Linked DNA regions of Homo sapiens. The protein of the gene in region 6 purifies or fractionates together with the protein of the main gene of each other region. This does not show direct contact. Each region holds a gene or a part of one and is shown on either strand. Other genes may lie near its edges.

Region 1 (2,668 bases), on a different chromosome or scaffold from region 6:
AAATATTTGCTGAGTGTTCTGAGTCCCAAATACCGTCTAAGGCAAACGATGTTTTAAGCTTTTGTTTAGCCTTTCTCCTTAACTTGTTTAAGAATGTTTTAAAAAATTCAATTAATAGGCTGGGCGCGGTGGCTCATGCCTGTAATCCCAGCACTTTGGGAGGCCGAGGCAGGCGGATCACTTGAGGTCAGGAGTTCGAGACCAGCCTGGCCAACATGGTGAAACTCCGTCTCTACTCAAAATACAAAAATTAGCCAGTCGTGGTGGCGGGTGTCTGTAGTCCCAGCTACTCAGGAGGCTGAGGCAGGTGAATCACTTGATCCCGGGAGGTGGAGGTTGCAGTGAACCAAGATTGTGCCACTGCACTCCAGCCTGGGTGAGAGTGATTGACTCTGCCTCAAAAAACAAAACAAAAAAAAAAAAAAGAAAAAGAAAATGAAAAAAATTCAATTAATAGAGGAGCACAAGATAATATTAAAGAAAACCCATCCACAAGCCTGAACTCTTAAAAAAAATCATTTTATTGATCCTTTACCATACAAAATTTATTCAAATTACACCCATTTGAAGTGGTAAGATCACAGCTAGAGAACAGGTCACCCTGTAACAAATCTATTTACAAAATCCATCATAAAAGCTTTTTTTTGTTTTTTTTTACATTATATTACATATTTTCTTTTTTAAACTAGCATACAACACAAAGCTAAACTGATTAGTAGTTTGCCTACTCCCAATTTTGGGAGAAATACTTCCTTTTTACAAAATCACGTACCCCGTAGGAAAAGAAATTCCCACACCCTGACAATTGCCACCCGACTTACTCTGCAAGCCATCTTCCTTCATATCCCTCCTTCTCATACACACGAGTTGTCATGCACACACTGAATTCTTATTTTCTTTTTCCTGAAAGCTTAAGCTTTAAATACTGCAATTTTATTTACAGATCTACACGTACAACAAAAATGAAAACAAGAGCCACAACAAAGAACAGAAAAACAAAAACAAAATAACACTCTTAAAAAATTACAAAGCAGCTAGAAAGTATTCTGGCAGTGTTTACAAATTAATTGCTATTTTTGTACAAAATTGCTAAATAATGAAAATGTGAGTAGACTACATATCAACTTAAATAAAACGATTGCTATGCACAACTCTGTACATATAAACACACTCCTAACACTGTTTGACAGCTCATGTGTTGCCCTTTATACATTTTATTTTCTAAGGCTCACGCAGTCATAATTTGCACACTTGTAACTTTTAGCCATTTCGTGTGTGAGCTTTAATAGCAGCAACTCAATGGTACCAGGAAACCTGCATACTTAGTACTTAAAGTAACGCAAATACTGTAGTACTAACCCACTTTGTGTGCCGGATACTAAGTCAAAAAGAAAATTACTTAATGCAAACAAAATACAGTATGGACATCTAATTAATGTACACCAGTTAAACCCAGTAACTGGAAAAAAATCTTATGCATGAAGGAACTTTTAAGACTTATTAGTATTCCTTTCATTTTAAAAACAATAAATACGGCATTACATTATGAAAAAATTCAACAAAACACACAACAATCTAGCCAGGTGAGCTCAGTCTTTAGACTTTGGAAAAAATCAGCTTTGTGCAGCTGGCAAAGAGAATTACACAAAGCTGGAAGCAGAGGCAGCTAACCAGATGAGATAAATATGGGAAATGGGGAAAAGCTTGGCATAAATGGTTTCCCATACAGGAAAAAACCCCACAGTGCATTTCCAGTAGGCACTTAACACAAAGCTCCCTCTCCCTCCCCCACCCCAATGCTTCATCTAGGACCACACCGACATTTTGTACCAAGTCCAGTGTGTGTGAGGGGAGGAGGCCAGGGATGGAGGCTGAAGAAGAAAAAAAGGAAGATAGTCTGCACCTTTGTTTTTCTTCCCAAACATACACCCACGCATACCCACACAAAGAGTTTAAAGTGCTGGTGTCATCTGTCTTGACCCCACCACCACTTTGCATATTGTGGAAATCTACCTGGAGTAAACTGGCTGGGGCTCTTGTGGTTTTTTGTGTGTTTTTTTTTTTTCCTAAGGGATATTTTCAATTCAATTAAACATATGAGTTGAGTGCCTACTATGTGCCTACCATTGGGTCAGGCACATAGCATTTCAATTTAACTGTTCGTTTCGAGGTTTGTTCTTTATCTGACTCCCTCATTCCCGCAGTCCTTAGCATCCAAGGAATGGACCGGAGATACTACGCCATATTCCCAGTGGGAGATGGCCGCTGCCACCTGCCCGAGGGAAAGCCATTCTTGGACATAACTGGTAGGATTTGCAGCTGACACAAAGCCTCCAACTTGGGACACCATTCCTGAAGAGTAAAGCGGGAGACACCCTGGCATTGTTTTGCTTCATTTTTTACGTCCCCGACTTCCCTTGGTCCAACTTATTCCTTCATAGAGGAAGGGGAACGGGGTCTGGCCAGAACTATTCCAGCCCCCGACACAGGGCTGCTCCCTGTTCCTGCCAGCTTAAGGAAATGCCACTCACACAATGGGGATGTCTTTCTCCCTAGAGGTCTCTCCATCTGACCCCATCCTGAGAAGTGGTCTCCCTGAGTGCGGTGTAAGAGAGCCCTTTCCCCTGTCACAGGGGCCCGGGAAGCCCAAGGATGGAGGGACCCATGC
Region 2 (4,255 bases), on a different chromosome or scaffold from region 6:
CAGAGAAGATTTTACCAAGTGGGATATTTGATCCATCACCTGAAGGACAGGAGTATGTCAATATCTGGGTTGCATACAGCATTATGGGCCATTATAAGGGGTTTTGTTGTTACTGAGTGTCAGATGGGAAGCCATTGGAGGAGTTTTGAGCAGAGGAGTGACATGATCTGACATTCACATAATAAAATTATCCTGGTTCCAAAAAACAGTGAGAGAATAATAGGCTTGAGTGATGGTGGCAAGAACAGAAGCAAGGAGAACAGTTGAGAGGCTAGTGCAATATAATCCAGGAAGCAGATCATTGTGACATAAACCAGGATAGTAGCAATGAAAAAGTGGTCAGATTCTAGATATATTCTGAAGGTAGAACCAATAAGATTTGCTGATCAAATAAATGTAGGATATGAAAGAGGGAAAAATCAAGATTGATTCCTAGGTCTTCCGCCTGAGCAACCGGAAGAATGAAATTGGTATTTAGGGAGACGGGGAAGACTGTGAGGAGCAGGTTTTGTGAGTGCAGCAGGTTTTGTTGGGGGTTGTGGGCAGGGGCAGTTTTGAACATGGTAAGTTGGAGATACCTATTAGGCATGCAAGTTGATATGTCCAGCAGGCAATTGGGCATAAAAGTATGGAGATACAAATTTGTGACTCATCAGCAAATAGATAGTATATTAAGCCACGAAGATCGGAGCATCACTAAGAAGATAAAGGACAGAAGATATCTTAGGCTTCAAGCCTTCCTCTACCTTTCAACTCCAGAAGTCAGTCCGTGACAAAATCCTATCAATTCTTCCTGTATAATGTCTCTCAATTCACCATTTTCCTTCCATTCCCACTGCTACCATTGTAGTCCAGGATCTCACCTTGTCTTACTTGGCTTTTACAATAGCCTCCTAACTGGTTTCCTTGCCTCCAAATGTCAACTTGAAACTCATCATCTCATTTGTCCTTCCCCTCCAAAAAAATCTTTCTACTTCTCCTGGGCTCTCTATCTTAAAGAATGGCATCACTATTCATAAGCATTTGCTTAAACTTGAAAATTTGAAATCCTCCTTGTCACCTCCCTTTCTTCTACTCTCCATTATGCAATTCTATTACCAAACCCTGACATTTTTACCTCCAAAATATAACTCAATTCTGTCCACCATTCTCTGTCTCTATTACTATCAATCTAGTTCAAGATAACATCACCTCCCACCTGGACAATGGTAATAGCCTCTTGACTACTCTTCTTCCCTCTAGTTAATCTCCCATATGAAAACCAGTGGAATCTTTCTAAAACAGTGCTATGCATATTTTGCCTACCTATTCTGTAGGTCCACAGAATAAAATTCAAAAGCCCTTCATCATTTGCCCATAACTTTTCTTTCCAATGGTATCTACTATGGCTTCTCTGGAAATTCCCCTCATTTCATCCCTGTGGGCTTGTCAGTGGTCTTTAGACCCACCATGACCACAGTGTGCCCCCAATACCTAGTGCAGACCTTCCCAAACATATTACAAGTGTCTGAGGCTATGAGATTTCTTCTCTGTCCTCAACTGAGCCCAGAGACAGTGCTGTTGAAACTCCTAGAATGCTTGCCTCTAGATGTCAAACTGCTTCCTCCATTCAGCCTAGTGTGCTTTACAAATACTATGCTTTTCTCTGCATGCCATGACACAATAAAGGTTGTGAAGGACTGCTTTAATGCACACCATTCCCAGAGTTTGGAAAGTGCTGCTCCATTCTCTTCTCTAAGTTCTAAGTACCCTTCTATGCCAAGTTCAAGTCTCACCTTTCTGATAAAGCAGTCTTTGATGCTACATATCCAACCTCAAAATTCTTGTATGATGTGACCAGACCACTCATTTGGCACTTAGTATATGTGCTGCTATTTAACTTTTTATGGTGAGACCTTATCTCTCTGTGTTGTCTGTTGCTTAAGAGCAACAATTTTTATACCGACTTTTGCACCCAGGGCCTTACCATACAGTAAGACACTCAGTATATTTTTACAATATTAATGAATAAATTAATTAATGAATAGATAGTTAAATTCCATCAGATGGTGCAATGGACAAGAACATTAGATTCAGAATCAGAGAATCTGGATTCTAGTGCACTTTGCCACTAGATGGTTGTGTGAGACTTCAGGAAAGTTGCTTGCCTTAGTTGCCTCATTCACAAAATAGGAACAATACTTCCCATTGTGACTTCCCAAGTTGAGATGGGATAATTTATGGAAAAAATATTTGGCAGATGAAAAGAGCATGTCGTTCATGAGTAATGCCAAAAGAGGCAGTGTGGAAGATAAAGAATGAGCTCAAAGAAGCTGCAGAAAACATTAGAGGGTTCATGGGTGAAAAAAAAGCCAAAGGGGTAAGGGAAATTTGCTAGCAAAGTAGACTTGCCCAGGAGTGATTGAGAAAGGATGATAAACACAGAAGAAAGAAAAATCAAGTTTCTGTTGCGAAGCAGTATAACACAGCCACTAGATCCAGACTGCCTAGGTTCAAAGCCTGGCTCTGGCACTTAACCAGCTATGTGACCTTGAACAAGTTATTTAACATCTCTGAACTTCAGTTTACTCATATGTATTATGGGGGCAATAATAATGCCTATTTCCAGGGAAGTGTTATAAGATGTAAAGGAGTTAATACTTATAAAGTACTTAGAGCAGTGCAGACCAGTGCCTAGCATATAGAGCGTTATAGAAGAACGTGTTAGATAAAATAATAATCTTCTCCTTACCAGGCAATACTCCAGTCCTCATGGCTGGCACTTTCTCCTGGGACCTGGAGCAGGGCTCACGAAAGTTCTGACTTGCTCTCCAGTGGGCACGTCTCCTTTCCACATTCCAGAGCCCAGTCCTCTGAGCTTAGCCTATCTCACTGCTCAAAGGACACTATGTTTCCCAGCCTACAAAGTTTCTTTTCAATTCTTTAGCCTTTTTCAAAACCCAATAGAGTTCCTTGTGAGAACAGATAGGAGTGAATTCCATAAGCTCCCAGAAGCAAATACAGACAGTATAATCTAATCTTTTAGAGCAATGGCTTTGTAATCAAGCAAAAGAGAGTTTGAATCAGGGCTCTGTAAATGACCAACTGAGTGACCTTGGACAAATCCAAGGTCTGAGCCTCAGCTTGCTTGTCTTCAAAATGAGGCCTCACAGGTGGTTGTCAGGATCAAATGAGAAAATGGACATGATGCATTCAGTATAGGGCCTGGCATGTGGTAAGCACTCAGAAAGTGTTAGCTCTTATCATTAATAATTCCTAGGATTATGGGTCTCGATTTTCCCAACTCTAGAATGTAATTTAATAGCACTATAGCTCTTATCCACTATTCCTCTGTCATCTCAATTTGACCCTTCCAAACTAAAAAGGTGCAAAAAAATATTCTTGGTGTGATAAGTTGACAACACTCTGCATTTTACACTCCCTTTGAGGTTTATGCCCAGTTTAAAAGAATTACAGAGAAAGAACCCGCAACTCTAAGTATGCTTCAGATTTCCATATGTCTGTAAATGCCTCAAAGACAGCAGTGGTCCTCTTAGCCTAGGGTGAACATCAAAATCACCTATTTTTATTTTTAATTTCATTAAATATAATTCTTCTGATAAAATGGCAAAGAATTTTTTTTCAAAATCCTTGCTTTTACCCTAGAAATGATACTCCTCATGAAACAAATGTCCAATGGGGAGACAGAGGGCCAGGCAAGTATATTTTGCAAAAGTTATCCAAGTCAGTCTCGTAAACACCCCTGATGTGAGAGAGGGACTGGAACATGCATTTGGAGGATGAGGCCAGGGTCTTGCCTTGAGAAAAAATCCAAGAAGGGCAAGTATAACCACTCTGCTTCCCACACAATGTGGGTATGTAGAAACATGCCCTGCACCCACAGGGAAGAGCATAGTATTTTCTCCTGCATGCATTAATCACAGAGGATTTCCCTCCTATAGTTATACAAGCATCATCCTTGACACATCAGTTGGAGAACTGTACTCAGTGAGAATACAAGATTCATCCAGCTTTGAAAATGTAACTATATCTAACAACTGGATTAAATATATTTCATGCCCAAAGATCTAATACTATTTAAAGCCTACAGCAAGGAAGAATGATTACCAAATAATTTAATTATTTTTGGTTTACACATCTGTCATCAAAGTTAATCGTTTGCTGGCAGAAACTGGCCATTTGGTCTTGACCATGATCACTAATGAGTGTGCTTGCATTTCATATCAAGGAAACAGTCTCTCAAATGGTTCTAATC
Region 3 (3,166 bases), on a different chromosome or scaffold from region 6:
CAGCAGCCAGTCGCTGTGATGGCTTAGTAAGAACTGGTACTGAGACATAAATGACTGTTGGAACTAAAAGAAACTCCTGTTAAAGCAGGGCTCAGACAGCTTTGCCAGCTCTTTCCAGTCCCTCAGGGTTGTTGATGAAGTATGAAATGGACACTGATGCTTTGTGGGAGTTTGCACTGTTACAGCATACTTCCTATTGGCATTTATGGAAAGGGAACTGCTTATATGCCCCAACAGCATTTACCCTCTAATCTTCATTGCACTCCCCCTTCCAAGCAGAGTTTAACCGTAAAGTAGTTCCTAAAGCGGGGAATGCACAAAATAAGGGGCAGCATAATTTTAGAACAAGTGAATGTTTAAGCAATCCACATACAATGCATGCCCTTTTTTGTTCATCCTCCCCCTACTCCTGCTTTTGTTTTGGGAAATGTATATTTTAAGGCAGACGCTGCACGTGTGAAGTTGTTTCTTATGAAGTCAGGAAGTAGAGAAACACACTGTGGAGGGGCATATGAGGGGTGTTTAATGCTACAGGAATAAGCGCCGGCTCCACCCCCTGTGTGTAGGAGTGCGCTCACCCTGTCGAGGGTAGGCACTGCCAGTGCAGTGTCCATCCTCGTCGCTGTTCAGAAGCACCTTCTGTAGAGGAAGAAAGGCCCGTGTTCCTCGTACTCAAAGCGGTGGACCCACAATGGTTGGAAACCCTGAAGTGAGGCCAGGATGGAGCCACCGGTCCACACGGCACTGTCTCTTTCAGGCAGCACGTTTACCTGCGGGGTGTCATTGGGACACATGCTGCTTAGCTCCTTCTGCAGACGGTTAGGGAAGCCACTGAGCATCGTGCTGCCCCCGCAGAGCAGGATGTTCCCCATGAGGTCCCGTTTGAGGGCGATGTCACACTTGTTAAGGCAGGACACGGTTTGGGTGTGGAGGCCCAGCTGCATGGACTTGATGAGAGATGGCTTGAAGAACATCTCCGAGCAGAGGAACCGTTCCTGGCACAGCTGAATCTCCTTCCCATCCGGCAGCACGTAGCGGATCGTATGCTCACTGAGAGGGACTTTCTTCTCCTCAATGGGATCCAGGGCCACAAAGCAGCATTTCTTCTTGATGTCCTCCACGATGCCCATCTGGTCCTGGGTGAATTCGTTCCCCGCACTGTTCAGCAGGCCCAGCAGGTAGGCTGTCAGGTCAGAGCCCGCGTAGTCCAGCCTTCCGGTGATGCTGGGCAAAGGATAACCCTCGTAGATGGGGACCACGTAGGACACGCCATGGCCCACCTCCACCACCAGGCCGGAGGTCCTTCCATAGGAGTACATGGACAGGCGCGACTGGTAGGCGATGTGCATTGCAGGGGTGTTGAAGGCTTCAAACAGCATTTCAGCATATTTCTCTCTGTTGGTGTGTGGGCTCAGTGGCGGGTCTGAAACCAAGACCGCATGCTCCTCCGGGGCGATCTTCATCTCTTGTCGGAAGAGATATTCCCAGATATCCTGCACTGTATCCCAGTCCACGATGATGCCATGTCGCAGAGGGTTAACCAGCTTGAGATGAACGTTTGTGTTGTTGAGTTCCTGCCCCACGAATGTCTCCTTGCGATTATCCCCAGTCTTGGCGGTCTCCATGTAGGGCTTGCCCACCGTTGTTGAGATCTTGTGGGTGGGTCTTGGCAGGCCGGCAAAGCCACATTTACAGTAGCCAGTGCCCAGGTCCACGACCACTGCTTTGGTCACCTCCTGCTTGGGCCTCTCCTTGGCTGCCTTTGATTCAGTAGGTTCTTGTGGCTCTGAACTCGTATGGCGGACCCACACGGCCCGCTTCGCCGGGCCATCCCTTAAAGAGGCAGTCTGGAGGGCCTGTGTCTGCAGGGGGGCCTGGTTGCCCACCTTCTTGGTGGGCCCATCCCCCATGATTGCTGCTGGTGGAGCCCACATGTTGTCAAGAGCCGCACCACTCTTAGAAAGTTCTCAATCCCACTGGATTCAAGGCCTGAAAGGCCTACATCAGAGGATACCCTGAGAATTTTCCCAACAGTGACATCACTAATTATGATGTAATCTGGTGACCTGGGCTTTCTAGATATTGCAAACCCTTATCCTGTGTTAGGGTACATTTGGGATATTGTTTTTGAAATGGCTCCCCTTTTCCTAAATTTCGTAACAAGACTGATTTATTCAATTAATTAATATTTCTTGAATGTCTGCTATATACAAGGCAGCTGGGAATTCGCTGGTGAAAAAAACAGACAAAATCCCTTATTCTAGTCGGTGGCGGGTGGGGGTGACAGACAATAACCAAAATGAGCGTTAAGAGCAAAAGCAGGGTGGCAGTGCTAGTGTGGCCTGGGCAGGGCTTCCTGAGAGGGTGACATTTGAATGAAGACCTGCAGGAGGTGAGGGAGAGAGCCATGTGTATGTCAGGGGAGCAGCAGGTGCAGAGGACTGGAGGCAGATGTGTGACTGAAGAGTTAGATCAGGGGTCAGCAGGCTGCAGTCCAATCCGGTCCCCGGCTTGTTGGATAGGAATACAGCCGTGCTCATTCATGTACGTATTGTCCGTGACTGCCATTGCAGTACAACAGTAGAGCTGAGTCACAGCATTGAAGACTGCATTGCCCAAAAAGCTGAAAGAAAGTAAATACTGACTGACCCTTAAAAAGTTTGCCGACCTCTCGAGTTAAAGGAGGAGCAGGAAGAAAAGTGTGGCTGGCATAGAAGGAGTAAGGAAAAGTAGATGAGATGGGGTGGGGGAAGGCAAGCAGCTCATGGTAGGCCTCATAGGCCAATGCAAGGATCGTGGGTAAGGTCAGAAAGCACTAGAGGATTTGGCACAGAGCACTGACACCATCTGATTTAGATGTTAGTGGGAATCCTTTGCTGCTATGGTGACTAAGGGCACTAAGGGTGACCCTTAGAACAACCTTAAGGGGAATTATTTTTGGATATACATGTGTACACTTACTGTGCCTTCATCAGGGTCATTGGCTAGACAGTGAAATTAGACTCTACAAAATCCCACTGACAACACTGAGGCTTTTAGGTGCATAGCTCACCCAAGGATATCCAACCAGGAGTAGCCAAGCTCTCCTGACTGTGGCTTCCTCCCCAGGATGTGCTGGGACACAGCTTGATGGGACCTAGCGTGCAACTCTTAGGCTGTTTGGCCA
Region 4 (3,500 bases), on a different chromosome or scaffold from region 6:
AAGCTATGTCTTGAAAAGGACCAAGATATAAAATGACACTAAATTAAGGTGTAAATATTTTCTCAAAAAAGTTTAAGACTTGGCCAGGTGCGGTGGCTCACGCCTCTAATCCCAGCACTTTGGGAGGCCAAGGCGGGCGGATCACGAGGTCAGGAGATCGAGACCATCCTGGCTAACATGGTGAAACCCGGCCTTTACTAAAAATACAAAAAATGAGCCAGGCGTGGTGGCGGGCGCCTGTAGTCCCAGCTACTCGGGAGGCTGAGGCAGGAGAATGGCGTGAACCTGGGAGGCGGAGCTTGCAGTGAGCGGAGATCCCGCCACTGCACTCCAGCCTGGGCGACAGAGCGAGACTCCGTCTCAAAAAAAAAAAAAAAAAATTAAGATTTATCCATTGCAAGTTCAAATACTATGTGAAGATATGATCAAGGAGAAGAAACGCCATGATAAAGTAGAGCTAATGACAGAAAGAAGAAATCAGTTAGGTTTTTTGATGCATGTATTCTTGAGAACAGTCTCTCAGGTATTGTGAAATCTTCGTTAATCAAGGTATAGTATATGATGATGTTGTATAAGAGACCTTCAGCAAGAAACTATATTGAGTCACTCTAGATTCATATATGTGCATGTGTGCATGTATCTATATATGGGTTCATATATATATGGGTTCATAAATATATATGGGTTCAAATGCCAATATTAGAGTTATTGATAACAAATCATAGATTCCAGGCAGATCACTGGAGTTCAGGAAAGAATATTTAGCAGGAAAATTGGCCAGGTATGGTGGCTCACACTTGTAATCCCAGCACTTTGGGAGGCTGAGACGGGCAGATCACTTAAGCTCAGGAGTTTGAGACAAACCTGGGCAATATGGCAAAACCCCATCTCTATAAATAAATACAAAATATAGCCAGGCATGGTGGTGCATGCCTATAGTCTCAGCTACTTAGCAGACTGAGGTGGGAGGATGGCTTGAGCCCAGGAGGCAGAGGTTACAGTGAGCCGAGATCATGCCACTGCACTCCAGCCTGGGTGATAGAGCCATACTTTGTCTCAAAAAAAAAACAAAAAACAAAACCGAATATGTATATTTAGTAGGAAAATTATGTCGCATTTGGGCTAGGACACTGCTTTGGTGGACTCTCTTATCATTTGGTTCTTGTACCAGGACACAGACCAACCCCTTAGCTAAAAGGAACTCCCTGTTGTTTTTGCCTTTCCTCTACTGTAGTTGGATTCCTACAGTATTTTTCTGTAAAATAACCATTCCTATTTCTTAAGCATCAATGAAAAATAATAGTATTTTTCTTCTTCCAAAAGCTTGCCACTGCTTGGTTAAAAGAAGGGAGGGGGTGGGGAGATTGATGGGGGCAGGGAGGTTCACGATGCCATTACTTGAGCTGGCAGCCTCTTTGCTGCCCAACTTCAGGGAAATGATAGGAAGAGCAGGTATAATCAGGACAAGAAGGTCCCCAGGTTAGAGGGAGAGCAGTCATTCTGCCTGCTGACTTTAAAATGCTTTCTTGTCCTCTTATTTTAGAATGCAGGTCTGGTGACTGTCACTACCACTCCTCTCAACTGTGGCCCTCGACTGAGGGTGCTCCTGGGCCGCCCCGCACATGAAAAGCTGCTGATGCTGCTCCCCGTGGGGTACCCCAGCAAGGAGGCCACGGTGCCTGACCTCAAGCGCAAACCTCTGGACCAGATCATGGTGACAGTGTAGGCAGGGCCCCCCAAGGGAGTGGCAGGGAGATGGCGCCCCTGCTTTTCCCTGAGCCTCTCGCCTGCTCCTCTTGGGTCTCTTGGCTGCTCTTTCTCCAGGTGTCAGGTCCCCTCATTGCTCTTCTCAGGTGGCCACACTATGTCAAGAAGCCTCTCCACACTCTGTGGCACTTCCAGTCCCATAAATCCTGTTTCTTATCCACTTTGGAAATGCATGAACACTTTACAAAGAACATGCCCGGGTTTTTACATTTTAAAAGTTATTCTAGACAATCACTATTGGCTTTTTTCTTTTATTTTTAAAAAACTCACATAGAGGAGACAATCAGAAATTTACCATAGTCCCAAGAATTCAGCTACATGATGACTCGAATTTAAATTTAGATTAATCAAATGGTCTCCTGTTCTCTGATTTCTGGTGGCTTTTAGACACTAATTTTTGAGAACTACTTTTTTTTTTTTACCAAACTTCAGGGACACTCTGCTAGTTTTGAATAAGTAACCATCAAAGTTACTAAAACATGGCCAGGCGCAGTGGCTCATGCCTGTAATCCCAGCACTTTGGGAGGCCGAGGTGGGCAGATTGCCTGAGCTCAAGAGTTCGAGACCAGCCTGGCCAACATGGTGAAACCCCATCTCTACTAAAAATACAAAAAATTAGCTGGGCATGCACTTGTAATTCCAGCTACTCAGGAGGCTGAGGCAAGAGAACTGCTTGAATCCGGGAGGTAGAGATTGCAGTGAGTCAAGATGCTGAGATGCCACCACTGCACTCCAGCCTGGGCAACAGAGCGAGAACCTGTCTCAAAAAAAACAAAAACAAAGTTACTAAAATGTCACCTTCACAGAACAGGACAGGGTACCCTTGGGTCGCACGGGCCTGGCTGGCATGTAAACGGTCAGTTGCACTGCCTAGTGGTTTGGTAGATCTGACTTGTAAGCAGTTCATAGAAGCTGCTCAATACTCAAGAATCTTGCAAGACAGTTATTAAACATTCATAGCTTGAAATTGCCCATGGTGGGAGAGTTTACATCACAACCACTACAAATCAGCACTTGCTTTCTTCTTCTTAAAGAGAGCTGCTTACCATACATAGCACCCACAGTGTCTCCCTTCTCTTCTACCCCAACCCCTGAAACACACTGACCCCTATTCTCCAGATGACAGCACAGCTGTTTGGGACTGATAGGGTCACAGTTGCCAGGTTGGGAATGCTAGATGTAGTCTTCACCCATCACCTTCTGTCGTCCTCCCAGGGGTGTCATATTTACAGAGGCAAACTCTTACAGCTTGGATGATTTCTCATCAAGCAACTCTACTCACCTCTTTTTCCCCTTTCCCTGTGCGTTTCTTCTTCTTGTCCTCATTTTCCTTGAGAAAACTCTCTCTATAAAAAATTTCCATAGAGTATGTGGCTGATAAACAACAGAAATTTGTTTCTCACAGTTCTGGAGGCTGGAAGTCCAAGGTCGGGGTGCCCTCATGGTCAGGTGCTGGTGAGGACCCTGATCTGGGTTGCAGACTGCTGACTTCTTATTGTGTCCTCGTGGTAGAAAGAGGGTTAGAGCCTCTGGCATGCCTTTTATAAGGGTACTAATCCCATCATGAGGCCCCGTCCTTATGACCTCATCACCTCCCAAAGGACCCCCTCCTAATACCATCACATTGGGGGTTAGGGTTTCAACATATGAATTGCGGGGGACACAAACATTCCGTCCATGGCACCTACTTCATAGGGTTTGGCATGCTGCTCGGTACATGGTTAACATTCATA
Region 5 (3,500 bases), on a different chromosome or scaffold from region 6:
GAAACATATGTTCTTTTCTTTACATCAGCTTAGGCCACAGCCTTCATTTTTCCAAGTGGCATACACAGATTGTACTTTTCTCGGTTAGGGGTTTAAACATTCATTTCTCTTGTATCCTCAGTATCTGATGCTTAGGGTTCTAAACATATGTTGGAGGTTAAATAAATGTTGATAAATCATCTGGAAGTTCTTTCCCTTCCTGTAAATCTGTAACATGAGTAGGAAGCTGCACTGGGCATGTTTCCATCAACATACCATTAGTCGGATTGTTCCCAAAGGCTTAAGAATCAGAAAGTCAGACAGGGGAGGGCCCTTACAACCTCCCTTCAAATCCTAGAAAAGTGGAGTTCACTAAAGTGAGGTTCCACTTCCAAGGTCAGTACACTAGAGGAGAAAAGAAGAGTAGCTTCATTTGGATGGGTGGCTCACATTGGTTATCACACCGAATTAAAAGTTGATTTATTACAGATTCACTGATTGAATCTAGAAGGCAAAACAATTTGCCCACAAATAATTCTGTATTGTCTCCATTTAGTTATCCTGAATTTGGCCAGTTCTTTTTGTAGAAATATAAAGAGATGCTGGTCAATACATGACAGTCATCTTCAGGGAAGAGAAGTCAACAAAATTGAAACAGGTTTGAAGAGACAGGGAGCACAGATTATCTTGCTAATTCCTGAGACTGATGGGATTGCGTTGCTGAGCTGCTATGACCACTGAGTTAGTAATATTTGATATTATGTCTTCTTTCTTTGGGTCCTGATTGTTCTTTTTGCACAAAGACTTCAGGTCAAGTGTGGGTCAAAGAGACATTGTATAAGAAAGTCACAGGCAGTTTCAACAGCAACAAAATCATTTAACAAGTTAAGATCTTTAGACTCAGTGTGAGTACTGGTTTCATCACCTAAATCGTAACTATCCATCATGTCACATTTTGAAAGGACAATAATTTATTACCCAGGTTGCCAAACCCAAATAAGAGAAAAATGGTGGGAGAACATGATGGCAGTCTTCAAATACATGAAGACCTCAGAAAGATGGAAAAAACTCAGATCTTTCTCTAGTGGGCAGCACTAGGCCGGATGGTCCAAAATTATGGGGAGACAGCCCTGTCTTTCTACAAAGCATATTCTGAGCATGCATGATGTCGGGTAATGGGTGCTGCTCTGTGCAGAGAGGCTGACAGACACCCACTGGGTGCTGCGGACTGGACTTCTGCACTGACTGAGAGAATAGGAGAGGCCTTAGAAGTTGTCCAATCCAACTCAAAATTCAATTTCTATGAGCCAGGCACAATCTCTTCCACTGTGGCTTACTTGGTCCTTTGAAGAACAAAGTGTTACCACAATCATACTGTAGAAGGCAGCAGTTCGTGTCCTCCTGGGTGTCAGATATTTCTGATGACTACAGAAGGGAGTTGGAGGCAAGCTTACCTGCAGTCTGCTGTGTCTGAACACCATCTACCTGAGGCAGGGGCCCAAGTGTCCCTTCATCATCAAAGGCCAAAATTGGATTCAAAGGAATTTCTGGGCTCTCACTGTTGGTGACATCTAATCTGGATGGTTTAGATCCAATGGGTAAGTTTATAATTTCTTCAAAATTTTCATTCTGAACAGATACACCATTTTCATTTGGTTGTTTTTCCAAATCGGGAGTGCTAAGGAATTTGAAAAATAAAAATAGAAATAAGTTAGTCTTAAAACTGGAAAACACATTATTAGGAAAACCAAAATGTTTTATAATGAATAATTTTATAAATCTACAATTAAAAAAATCAGACTGGTGAGTCACATCATTACTAACAAAAATAATAAATTGTGGTGTATTTGTACCTTAAATTCTTATTTTAAAAAATCTAGGTCAGGCACAGTGGCTCATGCCTGTAATCCTAGCGCTTTGGGAGGCCGAGATGGGAGGACTGCTCAAGGCCAGGAGTTCAAGACTAGCCTGGTAAACATAGCAAGACCCCCGTCTCTACAAAAGAAAAAAATTAGCTGTGTGTGGTGGCACGCACCAGTAGTCCAAGCTACTCTGGCAGTCGAGGTGGGAGGATCACTTGAGCTCAGGAGTTTGAGGCTTCAGTGAGCTATGATGGCACCACTGCATTCCAGCCTGGGCTATGGAGTAAGACCCTGTCTCTAAACAACAACAAAAAAATTTTAAATCTGTCATTTTGTTATGAAAATTATCAAATAGAACAATTTATCAATTACAACAGATCATCATTAATAGAAATAAATCATCATCAGCAGCAGTTCTACACATTTAATGATTTCTGCTGCAGGCATTTTTATATTCATCTGATAGAGTACCACTTATGAGGACCTTTGCCTCAAAGATGAGGGGATTATAATTTGGAGGGGGGAGTAAATGATTTGCACAAAGTCACACAACTACTGAGAGATAGTTGAGGCTAAATGCACGATCTCTTAATCTCTGGTCCTGTGTTTTTCTCATTAAGCCATTTCGCACACTTTCTAGATATTCCAGCCTCCTAAAGCCCTTGCATAATTTCATATGTAAATTTTTGAAGACCGATCTTCTTATCTTTGCCCCTTAAATCTGCCTCTGACCTCATCTTGATCCTTATGAATTCATGCTTAATATCTTGGATTTATTTTTGAGATATACTTAATTGGCCCCAAATACTTAATCTTCTATGGTTTGTCTTAGATTACCACTCTCTGTTATAGGCTTATTATTATGCTTTACAATGTAGCCAAATAATGCCTATGCATCAAATGAGTGCTAAACTAATTTTACCATTCATTTTATTTCATTGCAGCATATACATATGTGTGCAAGCTTCAAAACTTGTTCAATGCTCAACAAATTAACCTTAGTCTCAGTAATACCAACTGCTTGAACATTGTTAGCAAGTCAGTTTGTCTTCTCAAATTGTAAAACAATGCTAATGTAAATCCAACCTTTCTATTGCTTTTTAACACTTTGCTTTTTTTTTGCCTGATTGAATAAATAGTTTACTTTCTTTTTCCTTTTTTGAGAAGGGTCTCACTCTGTTGCCCAGGCTGGAGTGCAGTGGTACAGTCTCAGCTCACTCCAACTTCTGCCTCCTGGGTTAAAGTGGTTCCTGAGTCTCAGCCTCCCAAATAGCTGGGACTACAGGGGCAAGCCACCATGCCTAGCTAATTTTTGTATTTTTAGTAGAGAAAGGGTTTCTTCGTGTTGGCCAGGATGGTCTCGAACTCCTGGCCTCGAGTGATCTGCCCCCATCGGCCTCCCAAAGTGCTGGGATTACAGCCATGAGCCACCACGCCCAGTCAAAATAGTTTACTTTCTCTACTGAGTGAGAAGTATTGACTTTGGAACACATACTAAAGCATTTCTGATTTGAATATTTGTGTATTTTTAAAATTATTAAACCTTCCTTTTTTACGGAAAAAATGAAGATGCCTGTCCTAAGTGTCTCACAAGGCATTGCAGAATACACTGAAAACATTATTTGTAAAATAATCTGAAATATTATACAGTGTGATGAT
Region 6 (3,500 bases):
TTAAGAGCTGTAACACTCACCGCCAAGGTCTGCAGCTTCACTCCTGAAGCCAGCGAGACCACCAACCCACTGGGAGGAACGAACAACTCCAGAGGCGCCACCTTTAAGAGCTGTAACACTCGCTGTGAAGGTCTGCAGCTTCACTCCTGAACTCAGCGAGACCACAAACCCACCGGGAGGAAGAAACTCCGGACACATCTGAACATCCGAAGGAACAAACTCTGGACACACCATCTTTAAGAACTGTAACACCACGAGAGTCTGCAGCTTCATTCCTGAAGTCAGCGAGACCAAGAACCCACCGGAAGGAACCAATTCCGGACACAATACTACAATCAACCAATGTTCATAACTTCCATTTGGATCGACATCTGTGCCTTACTATACCTATAACTAACTGAATAAATACAGGGTTCCTTTTAAAGTTTTGCTCCAAAAGAATAGTGTCAAAAACAACCAAAGGCTAATTTAAGATTATAATTAATGATCAGGCTGGACACCAAGGCTCACACCTATAATCCCAGCCTTTGGAAGGCCTAGGCAGGTGGATTGCTTGAGCTCAGGAGTTCAAGACCAGCCTGGGCAACATGGCAAAGCTCCGTTTCTACAAAAAATACAAATATTAGCCGGACGTGATGGCTCATGCTTGTAGTCTTAGCTACTTGGGAGGCTGAGGCTGGAGAATAGCTGAGCCTGGGAAGAGGATGTTGCAGTGAGCCAAGACTGTACCACTGCACTCCAGCCTGGGCAACAGAGTGAGACCCTGTCAAAAAAAAAAAAAAAAAAAAATATATATATATATAGAATGGATCATATTACTTAAAAGTCAATAGTACAAAATAAAAAGCCTATATCATCCTTTTGTTCCCTGCATTCCTTCTTAAATGAAGATATGATACTGAGCTCATCATAACTTTATAAACTTGTTTGGCTATGAAACATATCTTGAGTTTGTAAGTTATAAAAATAATCTAACAGATGGGAAATAAAAAATGAAAAGGCAGATATAAAAGCAACCAACCTTTCTTGACCCCTTTTTCACTGACCTTTTCACCACATCCTTGTACCCTGGGGCCTGCCTTTCTGACACAGGCTTCAGAAATGGACTGCTGAACCTGTTAAGGGACAAACCCAGAGAGGATAAAGAAACCCTGGCAAGGCACTCTGAAGGAGAAGAGTAGCTCAGTTCTTAGTAGACTTCCTTTAGGGGAATGCAGACTGTCAGCACCATTAGGAAAAAATCTATTTGTTCCCTCTTGCCAGAGAGTTAAAAAAAACACAAAACTATAAAATATTTCACTATTATTACAATATACTGATTTAGGGCTCAGAAATTTGTTCAAAGTTCCCAAGGCCCTGTCTCTGTGAAAAAAGAGAATCCACCAGATTGAAAAGAAGAATATACATTTTAAATATAAATTTTATCATGTAGTAGGAACCAATTTCTAGAGGCAACTCAAATGGCACAGCAACTATTTCTTGTACAGACTTGTGAAAGCAGCTGTGGGTACTTTGGGATAAATCGGGCTTAGATACAGAATCTACCTTTCAACTATGGCTCATTTGAGGGATGAACATATCTCCTTTTATGCTTAAACCCCAATATGTATTACTGCTTCAGCTCTGAACATAATCCTATTACCACTTTGGAGACCTACCTGTGACTGGCAATCATCTTCCAGACTGGCAGGAGAGTCTTCTTAAATAGCAAATGATCCTGAACAGGGTCATCCTGGCTTAGATCAGTCCTATGAGGATAAAACATGAAGAAAAGAGACAGTAACTTCACAAATAATATTCTATCTCCCCCAGGTGGGTAATGAGGTTTTCTTAAGACATGCTCCTAATTAATATCTGAAGCTTTTTATCTCCCCTTATCTGGCCAAGCAGACTTAGTTATTAATATCTATTGTTTTCTCTTTTAATTTTTTAATTTTATTTTTCTGAGACAGAGTCTTGCTCTGTTGCCCAGGCTGGAGTGCAGTGGCATGATCTCAGCTCACTGCAACCTCTGCCTCCCGGGTTCCAGCGATTCTCCTGCCTCAGCCTCCCAAGTAGCTGGGACTAAAGTTGCATACCACCACACCCAACTAATTTTTGTATTTTCCATAGAGACGGGGTTTTGCCATGTTGGCCAGGCTGGTCTCAAACTCCTGGCCTTAAGTGATCCACCCGCCTCAGCCTCCCAAAGTGCTGGGATTACAGGCATGAACCACCATGCCCAGCCAATTTTTTTTTTTTTTGAGACAGGGTCTTGCTCTGTTGCCCAGGCTGGAGTGCAGTAGTGTGATCGTGGCTTACTGCAGCCTCAACCTGCTGGGCTCAAGCGATCCTCCTGCCTCAGCCTCCCAAGTAGCTGGGACTCCAGGCACATGCCACCACGCCCTGCAGCTAATTTCTGTATTTGTTGTAGAGACAAGGTCCCACTACGTTGCCCAGGCTGGATATCTACTGCTTTCTAATAAAGATTTCATATTTAATCTAAATTGTAAGGTAAGAATGTGGAATTTACCATCCAAGACTATGAACTGTCATGAGATAAGATGTCTCAGATTGGGCCCGGTGTGGTGGCTCACGCCTGTAATCCCAGCACTTTGGGAGGCCGAGGCAGGCGGATCACAAGGTCAGGAGATTGAGACCATCCTGGCTAACACGGTGAAACCCCGTTTCTACTAAAAATACACAAAAAATTAGCTGGGCGTGGTGGCGGGTGCCTGTAGTCCCAGCTACTTGGGAGGCTGAGGCAGGAGAATGGTGTGAACCTAGGAGGCAGAGCTTGCAGTGAGCCGAGATCACGCCACTGCACTGCAGCCTGGGCGACCGAGCGAAACTCCGTCTCAAAAAAAAAAAAAAAAAAAAAAAGTCTCAGATTGCAGATTTCCTGCTGTTTGTACAGTCACAGTATGTCATCTCTGCACTCTATTGCTCATACTTAAGGAGTTAAAGAAAAGCAAATGAAGGCATTCCTCACCAATCTACATTTTAAACTGTATCCTATTTGTGTACCAAAAATTGAAATCTAGGCTGGGCACAGTGGCTCAGGCTTATAATCCCAGTACTTTGGGAGGCTGAGGTGGGATTGCTTGAAGCCAGGAGTTCAAGACCCAGCTTGGGCAACAAAGCAAGACCCTGTCTCTATGAGAAAAAAAAGAAATCTGCTCTTCAAAAAATATATATATATATATATTCATATATAAATATATGCATGGTTCAGCTGTATATCTTAAACAAAAAAACACTAGAATAATTATTAGTTTTACCTTTCCACAGACAACTGGGTGGATCTGGGATATACTGAAGAAAAAAAAAACAGTTCATACTATATTCTCTCAACAGATGGATCTGACACAGGCTGGAAAAAGAACAATTTATTTATTACCATAACAAAAATAACTTTGCTGGACGTAGTGGCTCATGCCTATAATCTCAGCACTTTGAAAGGCTGAGGCAGGAGAATCACTTGAGGCCAGGAGTCACAGATAAAAACAACTTTGTTTTTC
Region 7 (2,785 bases), on a different chromosome or scaffold from region 6:
CAGACCCCCAATACATGGATGGCCCTGACTCCCCACAGACACAGCCCAGACCCCCAGGACATGGCCTGGACCCCCCACACAGCCCAGACCTCTCAAGACATGATCCAGAACCTCCCCATGGCCCAGACCACCCCAGGACACAGCTCAGAGCCCCTCATGCCTGGGACCCCTCAGGATGGGCCTGGGCCCCACCCCCCACACCCGCGCCTGCCCCTCTGGAGGAGCGGAATCACCCTGAAGGCTGACGTGCGCACGGCGCCGCGGGGCGAAGGACTCACTGCCCTTTTCCGTTTCCTTCACGTGTGACGTCACAGGGAGGAAAACACAGTTTCTAGAAATGACTGAGACTGGGGCTGAGCAGAGCTTCCCAGGAACCCTCCCAGCCGGGACACGGCACTGCCTCTGGGTGTGTGGCCCCCGCTCTCCTGCCGTGCCCACCCGGCCCCAACGGGCCCTCACCCCGAGGTCCCCACACATCCCAAGGACCCAAGCCACCCTGGGTCTCCAGGACAGAAACACCACCTCCTGCCCCATCTTGGGGCTCACTGCAGTCAGTGGCCAAGTCCAGTGTTGAGGCCCACACTCAGCCCCCTGCACGTGAGGCCCGACTCTGCCCTGGCCGAAGCCCCTGCCACAAGCCCGGCAGCCTCTGCGTCGCGCTCACTGCGGGATGAGGCCCAGCTGCCGTCCCATCTTATCCCTTTCTGAACAACCTCCATCTACACGACCGGTTCACTTAAAGGAAGACAGGAGTGACGGGGCTGTGGTTCCTGGGGCACCCCTCCCTGTCTGCTCCACCGCAGCTCCTGGGATGGATGGACGGGGCCAAACTGAGACCCATCCAGGAGAGGCACAGACGCCCCAGACAGGCCGGCCGAGAGACGCTTTCTCCAGCACAGGATTCTCACAGCCGCCGCCGAGCCCCAGCACCAACCTCAGGCTGGTGAAGAAGCCTTGAGTCCCAGTCCCTCCCCACGAGCCGGGCCTCTGCTGTTAGGGAAGGATCTGGAGAGACCCTCCTGGATCAGGGAGAGTCAACGACTGCTGTCCCTGTGAGAAGAGGACGCAGACCCAGAGAGAGGCAGCGATGGAGGCGGGGGAAGGGAGTGATGCCCGCCTGCCACGCCTTCACCGCGGTCCCCAGAATCAGGTCTGAGGCGCGAGGACAGCAGCCCCCGGACTCACGCGGTGACCCTCGCAGGAGCCATGCAGGGAGGGGTGGGAGGTCGCAGGAGTGACGCCTGCCAGCGCTTCCCAGGCCCCTCCTCCAGGACCCGGCAGCTGCTCTTCCTGAGCCAGAAACCAAATACCCAAAGAGGTCGGGGGGTCCTAGGCACCCTGAGGTCGGGGAGGCCAAGACGGATCGGACACGGGTGGGCAGGGAACAGCACCTCAGCATGCATGGGGACCCCCAAAACGCAGAGTGAATTCTAAACACACCTCTGCTGAGTCCCAAAGGTAGACGGAGGCTTCACAGAAATGTCACAGAGCTCTAGGTCCAGGTGGGCCATGTCCTGGGCAGAAAAGACCCAAATAAAGTGGCACCAAGGAAAGACAGACACAATCAGAGTTGGGGGGCGGGCACGGGCAAGGCCTCCTGCCCCAAGCACATCGCCAACAGGCCGGACCAACGGGATGAAGCTTAAAGACGCAGTCAGGACAGCAGGGAACGCGGGACCGGGGTGGAGGCACGAACCGTGTGTGGGGAGGAAAATGTAAACCACTCTTTTGGAAAGGAAGTAATAACGTCCAATTTGGCCGGGCACTGGGGCTTGTGCCTGTAATCCCGGCATGCTGGGAGGCTGCGGCAGGCAGATCCCTTTAGCCCAGGACTTTGAGACCAGCCTGGGCAACACAGGGAGATCCTCTTACTTTTAGTTTTTTTAATGTCCAATTTGCAGGATTTAGAACGGACAGGACCAAACTCCAGATAAGAGTACGTGAACTGGGAAAAGAGCAGGCAGAGCCAACAGGCTCAAAAGTCTCCGCGTCATTCTAGAAGGTCAAGGCCAGGCACAGGGGCTCATGCCTGCAACCCCAGGATGGGGAGAGGCCAAGGCAGGCGGGTCACTCGCGCCTGCAACCCCAGGACGGGGGGAGGCCGAGCGGGTCACTTGAACCCTCTGAAATCCAAGAGTTTGAGACCTACCTAGGCAACATGGGGAGACCTTGTGTCTACAAAATATATGTTTTTGAATCAGCTGGGCATGGTGGCACACACTGGTGGTCCCAGTCACTCAGGAGGCCGCCCCCATGGGGGCTGGTCACATGATATGGGCCGTTCCTGGCAGGAACGTATCTTACACCTTTATTTTTCTGTCCTCCAAGGAGGATAGATTGAGCCCAGGATGTGGAGGCTACAGGTGAGCTGAGATCGCACCACTGCACTCCAGCCTGGGCAACAGTGAGGCCCTCACTCTTAAACAATTAAAAATTAAAAATTAAAAAAAGAAAGAGGCTAAGACTAGGCGCAGTGGCTCACGCCTATAATCCCAGCACTTTGGGAGACTGCAGTAGGCGGATGACTTAAGTCCAAGAGTTTGAGACCAACCCGGCCAACACGGCAGAATCTATCCGTACAAAAAATACAAAAATTAGCCAGGCGCGGTGATGGTGCCTGTGGTCCCAGCTTCTGAGGTAGGAGGATCGCCTGAGCCCTGGAAGGTACAGCTGCAGGGAGCCGAGACTGCACCACTGCACTGCAGGCTGGGTAGCAGAGTGAGACCGTCTCATGAAAAAAGAAAGAAGAGGTGGTTTGCCTTGAGACTCTGGTGAGGAAATGTGT

What was found.
Region 1: the proteins of BRD8 (region 6) and E2F3 purify together in Homo sapiens (co-immunoprecipitation; one study listed by IntAct). This does not show direct contact.
Region 2: the proteins of BRD8 (region 6) and RTL9 purify together in Homo sapiens (affinity purification with mass spectrometry, with the first as the bait; one large-scale study listed by BioGRID). This does not show direct contact.
Region 3: the proteins of BRD8 (region 6) and ACTL7A purify together in Homo sapiens (affinity purification with mass spectrometry, with the first as the bait; one large-scale study listed by BioGRID). This does not show direct contact.
Region 4: the proteins of BRD8 (region 6) and IYD purify together in Homo sapiens (affinity purification with mass spectrometry, with the first as the bait; one large-scale study listed by BioGRID). This does not show direct contact.
Region 5: the proteins of BRD8 (region 6) and MAP7 purify together in Homo sapiens (affinity purification with mass spectrometry, with the first as the bait; one large-scale study listed by BioGRID). This does not show direct contact.
Region 7: the proteins of BRD8 (region 6) and SDF4 purify together in Homo sapiens (affinity purification with mass spectrometry, with the first as the bait; one large-scale study listed by BioGRID). This does not show direct contact.

Annotation. Positions count from the first base shown.
Region 1 is NC_000006.12:20,491,547-20,494,214, reverse strand, and holds the end of E2F3 (transcription factor E2F3), read right to left. Parts: 3' UTR 501-2,668; downstream 1-500.
Region 2 is NC_000023.11:110,357,393-110,361,647, reverse strand, and holds the start of RTL9 (retrotransposon Gag-like protein 9), read right to left. Parts: upstream 2,801-4,255; 5' UTR 2,732-2,800; intron 1-2,731.
Region 3 is NC_000009.12:108,861,091-108,864,256, reverse strand, and holds ACTL7A (actin-like protein 7A), read right to left. Parts: upstream 1,992-3,166; 5' UTR 1,935-1,991; coding exon 627-1,934; 3' UTR 501-626; downstream 1-500. UniProt on the Homo sapiens protein: Essential for normal spermatogenesis and male fertility. Required for normal sperm head morphology, acroplaxome formation, acrosome attachment, and acrosome granule stability.
Region 4 is NC_000006.12:150,396,512-150,400,011, forward strand, and holds part of IYD (iodotyrosine deiodinase 1), read left to right. Parts: intron 1-1,543; coding exon 1,544-1,726; 3' UTR 1,727-3,500. UniProt on the Homo sapiens protein: Catalyzes the dehalogenation of halotyrosines such as 3-bromo-L-tyrosine, 3-chloro-L-tyrosine, 3-iodo-L-tyrosine and 3,5-diiodo-L-tyrosine.
Region 5 is NC_000006.12:136,344,423-136,347,922, forward strand, and holds part of MAP7 (ensconsin), read right to left. Parts: intron 1,658-3,500; coding exon 1,434-1,657; intron 1-1,433. UniProt on the Homo sapiens protein: Microtubule-stabilizing protein that may play an important role during reorganization of microtubules during polarization and differentiation of epithelial cells. Associates with microtubules in a dynamic manner.
Region 6 is NC_000005.10:138,144,131-138,147,630, forward strand, and holds part of BRD8 (bromodomain-containing protein 8), read right to left. Parts: intron 1,749-3,500; coding exon 1,659-1,748; intron 1,116-1,658; coding exon 1,047-1,115; intron 1-1,046. UniProt on the Homo sapiens protein: May act as a coactivator during transcriptional activation by hormone-activated nuclear receptors (NR). Isoform 2 stimulates transcriptional activation by AR/DHTR, ESR1/NR3A1, RXRA/NR2B1 and THRB/ERBA2.
Region 7 is NC_000001.11:1,219,217-1,222,001, forward strand, and holds part of SDF4 (45 kDa calcium-binding protein isoform 2 precursor), read right to left. Parts: intron 1,515-2,785; coding exon of another isoform or gene 1,483-1,514; exon of another isoform or gene 1-1,482. UniProt on the Homo sapiens protein: May regulate calcium-dependent activities in the endoplasmic reticulum lumen or post-ER compartment. Isoform 5 may be involved in the exocytosis of zymogens by pancreatic acini.